Linked DNA regions of Homo sapiens: regions 1 and 3 are each linked to region 2. Evidence: fine-mapped expression QTL. A gene starts in region 2. Each other region holds a variant in brackets. All regions are shown on one strand. Distances are between the middles of the regions. Region 1 overlaps MTHFD1 (methylenetetrahydrofolate dehydrogenase, cyclohydrolase and formyltetrahydrofolate synthetase 1). Region 2 holds the start of AKAP5 (A-kinase anchoring protein 5). Region 3 overlaps MTHFD1 (methylenetetrahydrofolate dehydrogenase, cyclohydrolase and formyltetrahydrofolate synthetase 1).

Region 1 (4,242 bases), 27 kb after region 2:
TAGCAAAATAGGATTAAATTGATGAATTAATTGCAATGTCTTAAGTACAGCATTACATTTTGTTATTAATAACTGCTGAAAGACCCTAGGACAACAGACACAGATATGTCGCCAAGCCTGGCGTGTCTGGGTACCCACCAGATCTTCGGCACTGACGGGCTCTCCTTTCTTACTGGATGCCACCACCATTTTGCCCAGTCTCTCTCTCATGTCTTCTAGAGAAGTGGTGAGAGCCAGGACAGCCATAATTTCACTGGCCACAGAGATATCAAACTGGGCCTGTGGGCAGGGAAAAGAGGTACTAGCAAAAACTTTGTGTTAAACCAGAAGTGTGAATTGCAAAAGTGATCCTCTTTTACATCTGAGGCTTAAACAAATAGCTTAAAAGGATAGAATAACAGAATACTACCCAAAATACTTAATGAAAATAATCCTCTAATAGCAAAAAAATATATTAATTAATTATTCCAAGACCCTGAGTTGTCATTTTTTTTTTTTTTTTTTTTTTTTGGAGACAGAGTCTCGGTCTGTTGCCCAGGCTGGAGTGCAGTGGCACAATCTTGGCTCAATGCAACATCCACCTCCTGGGTTCAGGCAATTTTCGCGCCTCAGCCTCCCAAGTAGCTGGGATTACAGGCGCGTGCCACCATGCCCAGCTAGTTTTTGTATTTTTTTAGTAGAGATGGGGTTTGGCCGGGCTGATCTCGAACTCCTGACCTCAAGTGATCCGCCCGCCTCGGCCTCCCAAAGTGCTGGGATTACAGGCGTGAGCCACCACGCCCAGCCCTGAGTTGTCAGTTTTTTAAAATAAATGTTATAGTAGGACCAAAAAGCTATGATTTTATCCCTATGAAGGCCGCTTATAATCATGCGCTTATTGTTTCTTTCATATACAAGGGAATAATATGGTACCTCTTAAACCAAGGAGATATACAGTGAAATGGCCACAAAAAAGAAGCAATTTTAATCAATTTCTATGCAAGGATATTCACTTGGGGCTCTCCACCTCCAGGAAAAAATGCCGGGGGAAAAACACACAGGTGACACATGGGATTTATTGCAAAAGCTGTCAGGAGTGCTCAATGCCACACACCTACTCACTTCCATTTTAAAAGGGAGAAGGCAGAACAACACCTGGCAGTATCAGTCGTATGAGAGAGGATGGAGGAGGAGAGAAGCAGCAAGATCTAGTGCCTCTGAACTAATTTCCTTGGAAAGGGACAAATTGTTACCGTCCGTGTGTGACCCTTCTCCGTTGGAGCCTGTCCAATCGTGATCTTCCTCAGGAATCTATCATTGGTATCCAACACTACAGCAGACAGGCAAGATATAGAACGATTTTGAGTAAAAGGACCACAAAGTTAAAGGAAGCAGCAGAGTTTTAAAGCAATAAGTCTAATTTCATGATTGTCTATCAATATTTCAAAATGGATGGCAAAGCTAGAATATGTGTTAAAGTTAAGAAATGATGTTCATATACCATAAATACACAGGAGTTATTTTTACAGCAAAGGAATGTGGAATGGCTTGGTTTTATCCCATCTAGAGAATTCAAACAGTTAACTAGAAATCTGGAATCTATTTTAAAGCATATTCCACATATAAGAAAAACAGAGCAGTCTACATTTTTTCAAAAGACTGAGGTTTGTG[T/G]TGTTGTTCTGTGGGATGATGACTCATTGACTTTCCACCACCGTAAGAAATGCAGGAGCCATCAAATCAGGGCAAGTGCAAATATCTTTTGAAACACGCTGGGTGCCAGGCCTGGTCTGGAAATTTAGGAAACATAGCACACTTAGCAGAGAGAATTTTTATTCTGATGACAGAATATCTATCCAATTATATAACCACAAAAAACATGGCAAAGACCAAGCAACTAACCAACTAACGACCTCCCAGGACTAACTACTGTTAACATTTTAGTGTACCCTCAGTTCTGGCTTTTGGTATGTGTAGTGTAATAGGAAATATATTTGACCTTTGTCATGGGTTCCTGACAAAAGGCTCACAGAGCTCTTGGAATTCCAAGGGTGATAGGAGTGTCTTGTTATTCATTACAAACTCCTTTTGATCACACCTGAGTTTATGGTAATAAGTTACTTATGGTAGGTCTCCTAGACAGCCTCAGGAAAGGAATGGTCACCAAAAAGACCAAATGATTAGAGGGCTGGAACTTTCAGTCCCACCCACCAACCTCTGGGTAAGGTGTTAGGGGTGTATAAAACTCTTGAACAGGCCGGGCACAGTGGCTCACGCCTGTAAATCCCAGCACTTTGGGGGGCCAAGGTGGGCAGATCACCTGAGGTCAAAAGTTCGAGGCCAGCCTGACCAACATGGAAAAACCCTGTCGCTACTAAAAATACAAAATTAGCCGGGTGTGGTGGTGCATGCCTGTAATCCCAGCTTCTCAGGAGGCTGAGGCAGGAGAATCGCTTGAACCCGGGAAGCAGAGGTTGCAGTGAGCTGAGATCACTCCATTGCACTCTAGCCTAGGCAACAAGAACAAAACTCCGTCTCAAAAAAAAAACTCTTGAACAACATGATTTGATGAGCCTCTGGGCTGGTGAACACATCCAGGTGCTGGGAGAGTGATGCCCCCTACGCTTCTCTTCCATCTGGTTGTTTCTGAGCTGTATCCTTTATAATAAACCATAAACACAAGTGAAATGCTTCTCTGAGTTCTGTGAGCCATTCTAGCAAATGAACCTGAGCAGGGGGTTGTGGGGACCCTCCAGTTTATAACCAGTTGGTCAGAAGCACAGGTGACAACCTGGACTTGCGATTCGTGTCTGAAGTGGGGCAGTCTTTTAGGACTGAGCCCTTTACCTGTAGGATCTGCTCCAGACAGTTAGTGTCAGAATTGAGTTAAATCATAGGATACTCAGTCAATATCCACTGGAGAAGTGAAAGCTGAATTGTTGTGGAAGAGAAAAACTACCCATCTGGTGTCAGAAGTGAGGTGCTGAGAGTACTATGAGTATAGAGAGGAAACAGGAGTTGCCATTTCAGTATCAAATGCCAAACAATATCAAAGAAACACAAAATTAAATTGATCCATATTCCTACTAATAACATCATTGCTGATGGCTGAATATGTTTTAGAACAGAGTTTTTCATCTTAGAGATTGGTGAAGCAGTGTAAGGATGTGAGAAGCTCACAGAGTACAAATTTGCCTATATATTTTGTGGGTTTTTTTTTCAAGATGTTTTCTATTTCAAAATTAAAATAATTTCAAAGTAAAAACACACACACACACAAAATGAACAAAAAAACCCAGTTCATACTCTAAATGAGTCAAGGAGGAGAAGCATTTTTAAGGCACTTGATAATATGCCAAATTATTTTCCATAAAGACTGTCATAATTTCATACCAAAAGCAGTGTCTTATATAGCAATCAGACACACACACCCCCCACTCTTGCTGTAATGTGTTGTTAAAGCCAACCCTTATTTTTCAAAAGAAAAAAGTATCAGGTTTCATGTAACTAATATTTCTGTAAAAAATAGCTAGTCAATAGGTATGACTGCCTCTAGTTGCTTAGAAAACATGAATGAGACACGAAGCAAAAGAAAAGTAAATCGGATACTAAATCTTCAAAATGGACTTTTAGCTTATTCCTTATAAAATATTATACCATTTGTCTAAAGCTATTGAAGCAAAGGAAGAGAAATTCCAATGTGGTTTTAGACATTGAGAGTGTCATCTAAATAAGGCCATTAGCTAGCAACGGTTATTGAGTCAAGGAAAATCACAAAAACAGTCAATAAACTGGCCTTCAGCTCTATTCTGCATGAGTGGATGAAGATTCTTTCTCAATAGTGATACAGAATAGAAGGTTGCATTGTTGATGCAAAGTGAAATCTAAGCTACACTAGTTGTGCATTGAGAAAAGTAGCATATGGCAGTGAAGCCAGGAAACCTACTTACTGAACTGGTAAGTATTTAAACCTTGAAGGCTACCTAATATGCTATAAGAGAATTTAATAAAATGAGGTAAAAAAATGATTAGGTAGGCCGGGTGCGGTGGCTCATGCCTGTAATCCCAGCACTTTGGGAGCCTGAGGTGGGCGGATCATGAGGTCAGGAGATTGAGACCATCCTAGCTAACATGGTGAAACCCTGTCTCTACTAAAAATACAAAAAATTAGCCGGGCATGATGGCGGGTGCCTGTAGTCCCAGTTACTCGGGAGGCTGAGGCAGGAGAATGGCGTGAACCTGGGAGGCAGAGCTTGCAGTGAGCCG
Region 2 (4,242 bases):
ATTTTAAAGCTGCAAAGGACTTTAGAGATTATTTGAGATTACTCAAATCCAGCCAGATGACAAAACTGAACTCCAGAGGGGAGCAGTTGTCTTGTCAAAAGCCATGCAACTAGATAAGGTCATAGCCAGAGTTAGAACTAGAGACTTTGACTCTCTAGTTTTACCATTATAACATAAGGTTTCTGTTCTAAAAATGTATGTTCCATCAAGGAAGTGCTATTTTTCATACATATTCTTAGGAAAATTTAGCATTACTGTCATTTCCCACTCTTAAATTAGTTGTACAATTTTGACATTTTCATTTAAGTACTGTATCTGCTGTATCACATGTTTCCACCATAATCTGCACATAGTTGGAAGTCAGTAAGAGTAGTAATAGCTGACATTTATTGAGCAATTCTTGGGTATTAGGCAGTGCATGCACTTTTACATACATCTCTAATCCTCACCACAATATTACAAAGATGGTGGTATCACCACGTACAGATGAAGCAATTTGGCTGAGATTACGGCAGAGCTGTAACAGAGCTCAGATTAACACAAGATTGCTTGTTGCTTAAAGCTTATGTTCTGAAACTGGGCTTTAAGAGTTTCGTCAGAAAATGAATTGTTTGGGGATACTAATCTGCAGTGTTTCATTAGTAAAAAAATTAAAAAATTGATTAATGGTCATTTAACCATAAGGCACTTATCAACTCATAATTGAACCACGAGTAGACTGAGTTCTTGTCATTTGAAAACCAAGCTTTTGAAATTCTTTATATTTTATTTTTTTGGTTCAGGAACTAATTTAAAAGCCAAAAATAAGTTGGCAAACTATGCAATTGGCAAACTTAGATAATATAAAGGTGTATTGAAAATTTAATCCTTAGAATGGTATGATGGCACCAAAGAATGGAAATGGGAGGTGATTATCCAACAAAGATCCTATGAATTTTAGTGGGTGGATGCCCTAAAATAAGCAAAGGGACTCATTCTTTATATTGTTTTTATGTAAATCCTTCACTGAAGTTTCATTTGGGTAACCCATAATTTTATGAACTGTAGAAGGAACTGGAACCCTGAAAATCAGTTTATGATCTAAGTAAATATTATCTTAGGTTGGGTGTTTCATACTGTGTGCCTCTAACAGAAAGATAAAGTCATTCTAGAACAATGACGGAACTAAAATATGAACATTTGACAGTGTTTCTCCTCACAATGTTTCAGTGAGCACTAGAACCTAAGCTGATAACTGTTTAAATCTTCTCACCTCTTGTGAGTTTTCAGCACCTGAGCATTTTTGTTAAGCAGAGGCTGTATTACCACATAATAGAAATATTGAAATGAGATGTTTAGGAGTCTGTCATTGGAAACTAACCTGGATTGCGCAAAGACAATCGTTTGAGAAGCTCACTTGAATGTATCTCACATACTAGAAATAAAACGAATACCCAAACAGAAACTTAACTAACGAGGGAAAATAATGCAGTCTGTAGACAATAAAACTTTGCAGAATGTCAGACTGCAAATGATTCGCTCTTAACCAGCAAGGGTAGCTTTATCGCCTCAGGAAATCTTAAAGTCCCTGTGCTCATTTCCTGATGGAATTGCAAGTCTCATGTCACAGAAAACACCCCCTTTCCTTTTTCCCTTGAGCAGCCAGTACCCGAGGAAAGCAATGCATCTTTCCCAGCACCAGATACGGACCACGAAGCTTCCTCCTGGAGGAAGGAATCTCGAATTCTGGCTTGACGCCCCTTATGGCAGGAGACAGAGCGCAGGATAAAGTACTCAAAAAGGAAAATGCCGGGGGCGTGGAACAGATAACCCAGCTTCAGGCTGTCTGCAGAATTATAATGTAATGGCCAGAAACCCAAAATCACATTTCTCAAAGAGGGATAAAGAAGGAAAAAAGCCACCGGCAACCCATGCTTCTAAGACAAGCTGTAACGCGAAGGGGATAGGTGGGCAGACCTGATGAGGGTCGCCCTGGCCGCGGATTCCAGCGGACAAGCGACCTCCCGCGTTCTTACTCCCAGCACCTCAGAGGGCTCGGATACCCCGTATCCAGTGGGCACCTCTTGCCCACTCCGCGGTCCGCGGACCGGACATTGCCCCCGACCCTCCTCCCCCGCAGGCTCCCCGCCCTGCCTTTACTTACGTAGGGCGTCGGGGTCCTTGGCCAACACTGCTCCCGAGGTGGCGGCGCGCTCGCGGGGCCCGCCGCCCAGGCCTCCAGGGAGCCGCGGTCGCACCCGGAGCAAGGCGCCCTCTGCAGAGCCCGCCGCCGGGTGCGCCCCCTCCCCACCGCGCGGGGACAGACAGCAGGCAGCGCCAATGCGAGCGGAGCGGAGCGGGCGGGCAGGGGCGGGGCGACCGCCGGAGGCGCGGGGCGGCGCGGGCGCCGGGACCCACCTGCAGCAGCAGCCTGCCTGCCTGCCGCGGGGAAGCCCATCGTGCTCCGCCCGGGCGCCAATCTCCACTGCCAGACCACATCAGCGCCGAGGCGGGGACCGCAAGAGAGCCAGCCGGAAGGTTCGGGGGGCGGGGGAAGGCGGGGGGGACCAGGGCAATGAACCCCGCGTTTTCTGAGACGCTAAATAGTGAGGTCCGGTTTCAAATTATAGACAGTCGCATTACACATCTCCTCTCCTCCCCCTCAGAATATTTAAAGACAAGGCAGACATCGCATTTTAAAAGCAGGATTCAAAACTGTGCATAGAATAGCGAGGTCATGTTTGTTTGAAGCGAAAATTACATATATAAATGGAAACAGAAAGAAACCCGACTTTCTCAGGAGTGGCTTGAGTGTCAGATCATCGTGGTTCATCGCCAAACAGGCTTTCAAACCTTTGTCTCCCAGTGGGAAGCAGGTGGAGGTGATTGGTGCAGAACTTTGGCCTGCAGGAGCAGCTGCATCTCTATGCGGACAAGGTGAGAAAGGCACAGGAACCCAGCTCCATCCATCTTATACCTTACATAGTTCCAAAAATAAGTTGAGGTAGCTTACAAGTTACCCATGATTCCCTTCAGGACATTCCCTATGAGGGCATTCCTGGGAGCTCCAGCTGTAAAATCTAGTAGGATCCATCACAATCCCAGCCTCCTCCTCTGGCCCCCATAGCATAGCATCCAGATGAAGAACCTGGTAAGGTGAAGTGAAGAACTACTGAAAAGCAGCCGCGTTCATCTCCTTTCTTCAACAGGATCACGACCTTAGGGAGTGTAAATGTCAGGTGTCCATTTTTGTATTTTTTCCGGAAATGTTTTATATTTGTAAGATTCTGTAGTTTCCACAGAGGCTTATCAAGGAAAGAACTCTTGAGACACAAAAGCAAAGCCAAATATAAGCTGTCAAGATCTTAAAATTACAGATAAAAGAGGCAAGAGTTGTAAAACAGGAAAATCCATAAGCATCTAGTTTAGTTGTAATTAAGAATTCAGGGATGGGCGCAGTAGCTCACACCTGTAATCCCAGCACTTTGGGAGGCCAAGGCAGGAGGATGGCTTGAGTCCAAGAGTTTGAGACCAGCCTGGGCAACATAGGGAGACAAAAAAATCTAAAAAATTAGCTGGGCATGGTGGTGCACGTATGGTCCCAGTTACTCAGGAGCTCAGGAGGCTGAGAAGGGAGGATCACTTGGGCCCAGAAGGTCAAGGCTGCTGTGAGCCACTACTGCACCACTGCACGCCAGCCTGGGCAACAAAGTGAGACCCTGCCTCAAAAAAAAAAAAAAATTCAGTCAGCCTTGTTCACTCAGCAAACACGTCTATCGAAATGGTCTGCGTATCTCTCTATGGGTTGCTAGCGCTGCTTGTTGCCAGTTTTGAACTTTAAGCCAAAAGAAATCCATTATGCTTATAAGCAATTGAGAACTATTCCTTATTGAGATCCAAGGTTTCTCAAAACTAGCAGACCTGGGAGTTTGCAAGAGTTTCAGGCAAAAAATAAGATGAGCTTATTTAGGTGAAGACAGGGTAAAATAGCTGTCTTATTTTTATTTTTATTTGAGACAGGGTCTTGCTCAGGCTGGAGTGCAGTGGTACAATCCCTGGCTCAAGCAATCCTCCCACCTCAGCCTCCCATGCAGCTGGGACCACAGGTATGCGACCACATGCCCAGGTTCTTCTTCTTTTTTTTTTTTTTGTAGAGATGGCGTCTCCCTATGTTGCCCAGGCTGGTCTTGAACTCCTGAGCTCAAGTGATCCTCCTGCCTTGACCTCCTACAGTGCTAGGATTACAGGTGTGAGCCCCCATGC
Region 3 (4,242 bases), 53 kb after region 2:
AGCACTTTGGGAGGCCAAGTCAGGAGGATTACTTGAACCCAGGAGTTCAAGACCAGCCTGGACAACACAGTGAAATGTGATATCTACAAAAACTTTTTAAAAATTAGGGCCAGGGGCTGGGTGCGGTGGTTCACGACTGTAATTCCAGCACTTTGGGAGGCTGAGGTGGGTGGATCACCTGAGGTTGGGAGTTTGAGACCAGCTGGGCCAACATAGTGAAACCCTGTCTCTACTAAAAATACAAAATTAGCCAGGTGTGGTGGCACATGCCTGTAATCCTAGCTACTCGGGAGGCTGAGGCAGGAGAATTGCTTGAACCTGGGAGGTGGAGGTTGCAGTCCGCTGAGATAGTGCCACTGCACTCCAGCAGTGAGTTGAGATTGTGCCATTGCACTCCAGCCTGGGCAACAATAGTGAAACTCCACCTCAAAAAAAAAAAAAAAAAATTAGGGCTGGGTGTGGTGGCTCACACCTGTCATCCCAGCACTTTGGGAAGCCAAGGCAGGCCTCCCAAAATATAGAAAATTATTTTCTATAATTTGCACCTTACAATACAATAGCAGCTACTGGATCACTTGAAGCCAGGAGTTTGAAACCAGCCTGGCCAACATGGTGAAACCCTGTCTCTACAAAAATATAAAAAATAAGCCGGGCATAGTGGCGCATGCCTGTAATCTCAGCCTCTCAGGAGGCTGAGGCATGAGAATCGCTTGAACCCAGGAAGCGGAGGCTGCAGTGAGCTGAGATCATGCCACTGCATCCAGCCTGGGCAACAGAGCAAGACTCTGTCTCAAAAAAAAAAAAAAAAAAAAAAAAGCGGGGACAGGTGCGGTGGCTCACGCCTGTAATCCCAGCACTTTGGGAGGCTTGAGTGGGCAGATCACTTGAGGTCAGTAGTTTGAGACCAGCCTGGGCAATATGGGCAATTAAAAATACAAAAATTAGCTGGGCGTGGTGGCGCATGCCTGTAGTCACAGCTACTCAGGAGGCTGAGGCATGAGAATCGCTTGAACCTGGGAGGTGGAGGTTGCAGTGAGCCAATATTGCACCACTGCACTCTAGCCTGGGCGACAAGAGTAAAACTCTGCCTCAAAAATAAAATAAAATTAGCTGGGCATGGTGGCTCATGCCTATAGTCCCAGCTGCTCAAGAGGCTAAGGTGGGAGGATCACTTGAGCTTAGGAGGTTGAGGCTACAATGAGCTATGATCACACCACTGTGCTGCAGCTGAGGCAAAAGAGTGAGACCCTGTCTCTAAAAATACAATACAATAAAATAAAAAGAGCTAAGAACTCTAATAACTTATTACAGCAATAATACCCATGTTACAATCATCCAAATCAAGATGTAGAGCAGCAATGTCCAATCATCTTTTCTGCGATGGCAGAAATTTTCTATAATTTGCACCTTACAATACAATAGCAGCTACTTAATCCTTGCAAAGTGGCTAGTACAACCAAGGAAGTGAATTTTTAATTTTATTTCATTTTAACTAAATTCAAATAGCCTCATGGGGCTAGTGGCTCCCATACTGGACAGCGCATATATGGAACATTGCCATAACCTCAAGAAAGTTGCTTTATCCTCCTACAGTTTAGCATTAATCTCCCACCTACAGGCAACCACAGTTCTGACTTTAATCACCGCTGATTTGTTCTGCCTAGTCCTGAACCTCATATAAAAGGAATACATATTTGGTTTTTAGAATGCAGATAATTACAGGCCAAGGATCGGTTTTACCTATTTTTTTGAGACGGAGTTTTGCTCTTTTTTCCCAGGTTGGAGTGCAATGGTAC[G/A]ATCTTGGCTCACTGCAACCTCCGCCTCCCGGGTTCAAGTGATTCTCCTGCCTCAACCTTCCAAGTAGCTGGGATTACAGGCATGCGCCACCACGCCTGGCAAATTTTGTATTTTTTAGTAGAGACAGGGTTTCTCCATGTTGGCCAGGCTGGTCTCGAACTCCCGACCTCAGGTGATCTGCCCACCTCGGCCTCCCAAAATGCTGGGATTACAGGCATGAGCCACCGTGCCTGGCTCCAAGGATCAGTTTTAACAAACACAACAGATGATTTGGAAGCAAACAGTACTGCAGTCACACTTTGAGTACCAAATGTTCATCCCTGCACCATCTCCTCTGTGGGAGTCTGTGAAGAAAGAATACCTGGAGGTGCCAGGCGTGGTGGCTCACGCCTGTAATCCCAGCACTTTGGGAGGCCAAGGCGGGTAAATCACCTCAGGTCAGGAGTTCAAGACCAGCCTGGCCAACGTGGTGAAACCGCGTCTCTATTAAAAATATAAAAATTAGCCAGGTGAGGCGGTGGGCGCCTGTAATCCCAGCTACTCGGGAGGCTGAGGCAGGAGAATTGCTTGAACCTGGGAGGCGGAGGTTGCAGAGAGTCGAGATCGCATCATTGCTCTCCAGCCTGGGTGACATGAGCAAAACTGTGTCTCAAAAAAAAAAAAAAAAAAAATACCTGGAGGTCTTGGCTAAATGTGTCAGTCCCCAAAGCCCCCGTAAACCAAAACCAGAGAGGAAACCACTTCACCTTCCCTCTTCACAATCAACTCATAAAAGCTCACCTCAGATTCTGTGGTTGTTCTTGGTAACTTAATGTGAGTGGCTTTGATCCCAATCTGCAAAACAGACATTAAAAGCAGGTAAATGGCAAGACAACTTGAGATATTGAACCATTTCTTTTACAGACATGACTAACAAGCAAGGAGGTGTTGGTCATCATTTCACCCTTATATGTTCTGAAGAATGAGTCCCTCACTTCAACCCATTCATCATTCACTTGTTAATTGCCACCACTGCACTTCAGCAATGTCATGCTTGCTATTTCTTGAGAAAGGAAATTAAATCTTGGGACCCCAAATTCATTAAGTCAAAGGGAAAAGCCAAGCTGGGAACTGGGTCATGCAAATCTGCCTCCCCCTTTTTGGTTCCTAAATAAGATGTTACAAGATGAAAAGCTACATGCCTCCCCCATATTTTGCCCACAAAGAAATTCGTAGTGAGCTGCAACATCTTTATGATGTTTCTGTTAAAATTTCACCATGGCAATGTAAATCCCCCCAGCCCACCAGACACAAATGTATATCTGATTTTTCCCCTGCCCAATTCTGTCTATGTTATCTTATGTAAAATGCAGATTGCCTGCATTTTTCCTCTGCCCCACTTGTCTATATCGTCTTTTTTTTTTCTGGTTGGAGCTTCACTCTTATTGCCCAGGCTGGAGTGCAATGGCACTATCTTGGCTCACCACAACCTCCGCCTCCCAGGTTCAAGCGATTCTCCTGCCTCAGCCTCCCGAGTAGCTGGGATTACAGGCATGCGCCACCACACCCAGCTAATTTTTTGTATTTTTAGTAGAGATGGGGTTTCTCCATGTTTCTTAGGCTGGTCTAAAACTCCCGACCTCAGGTGATCCGCCCGCCTCGGCCTCCCAAAGTGCTGGGATTACTGGCGTGAGCCACCGCGTCCGGCCATCTGTCATCTTATGTAAAAAATGCAGATTCACTGAGCCAGAGAAGGTCATGAATGACTATTTTTCCCTACCCACCTCTTACATGAAAACGTGTACTTTTCAATAACCCACCCTTTCCTCTTTAAATTTGGAGAACTCGAAATCATCTTCGGAGAAAGGTATAGACCTGTCTCCCAGGTGTGTCCTTAATTTTGGCAAATAAATCTCCTAAAATGATCGAGACTTGTCACTTTCCTCAATTGACATCCTGCTCTTTGGGAAGAAAATCATTAATGAGAAAACAAAAACTCACGGGCAAACCAGAGGCCACAGATCTAACCCACCCATTTCTGACTTACAAAATAGATAAACTAATGTCTCCTGTGGGTGATAAAAGTTTTCACAGGGAGGACCAAAAAGGGCAAGGGGTAATCGATAGGACCCAGGTGGAGGTTGGGGAGGGTGATGGCACAGCTCTTCTGGCGTTACCTCTTCAGCAGCCTTCAGCTTCACATTTATATAAAGATTGGAATCATCTCTGTTGCCAACCTAGAATAATAAATGCATGCAAATCAGATGATTAGGGAAAGGCAAAGTGCACAGAAAAGCTTCTACAATTTTAGTTTTAATAAAAGAAATGTTTAATCATGCGACTCTTGTTGCAGAGAACTTTTACAGGAGTATAGGGAGGCTGTGGGGGCAGGAGGGATTATGTGAACACAGATGGTGTTACAGCCCCTCCCCTAAACAAGGCCCACCTGGTTCCCACTGCCAAACC

The links. PIP is the estimated chance that this variant, and not a neighbour inherited with it, causes the effect.
Region 1: its variant is fine-mapped to the expression of AKAP5 in whole blood (TOPMed, PIP 0.91).
Region 3: its variant is fine-mapped to the expression of AKAP5 in whole blood (INTERVAL, PIP 0.92).

Annotation. Positions count from the first base shown.
Region 1 is chr14:64,436,163-64,440,404 of GRCh38, reverse strand. It overlaps MTHFD1 (methylenetetrahydrofolate dehydrogenase, cyclohydrolase and formyltetrahydrofolate synthetase 1), which reads right to left. Exons shown (of 28, transcript NM_005956.4): 17 at 1,233-1,309; 18 at 139-279. Among named protein-coding and RNA genes, the nearest start is that of AKAP5, 27 kb to the left of the region's middle. The variant T/G (reference allele first, on the strand shown) is at 1,651.
Region 2 is chr14:64,463,515-64,467,756 of GRCh38, reverse strand. It overlaps AKAP5 (A-kinase anchoring protein 5), which reads right to left and starts at 2,258. Exons shown (of 2, transcript NM_004857.3): 1 at 2,144-2,258. It also overlaps a transcript of ZBTB25 not described here. RefSeq lists silencers at 1,984-2,053, 2,064-2,463.
Region 3 is chr14:64,410,861-64,415,102 of GRCh38, reverse strand. MTHFD1 (methylenetetrahydrofolate dehydrogenase, cyclohydrolase and formyltetrahydrofolate synthetase 1) reads right to left here. Exons shown (of 28, transcript NM_005956.4): 3 at 3,954-4,013; 4 at 2,578-2,631. Among named protein-coding and RNA genes, the nearest start is that of MTHFD1, 25 kb to the right of the region's middle. The variant G/A (reference allele first, on the strand shown) is at 1,797.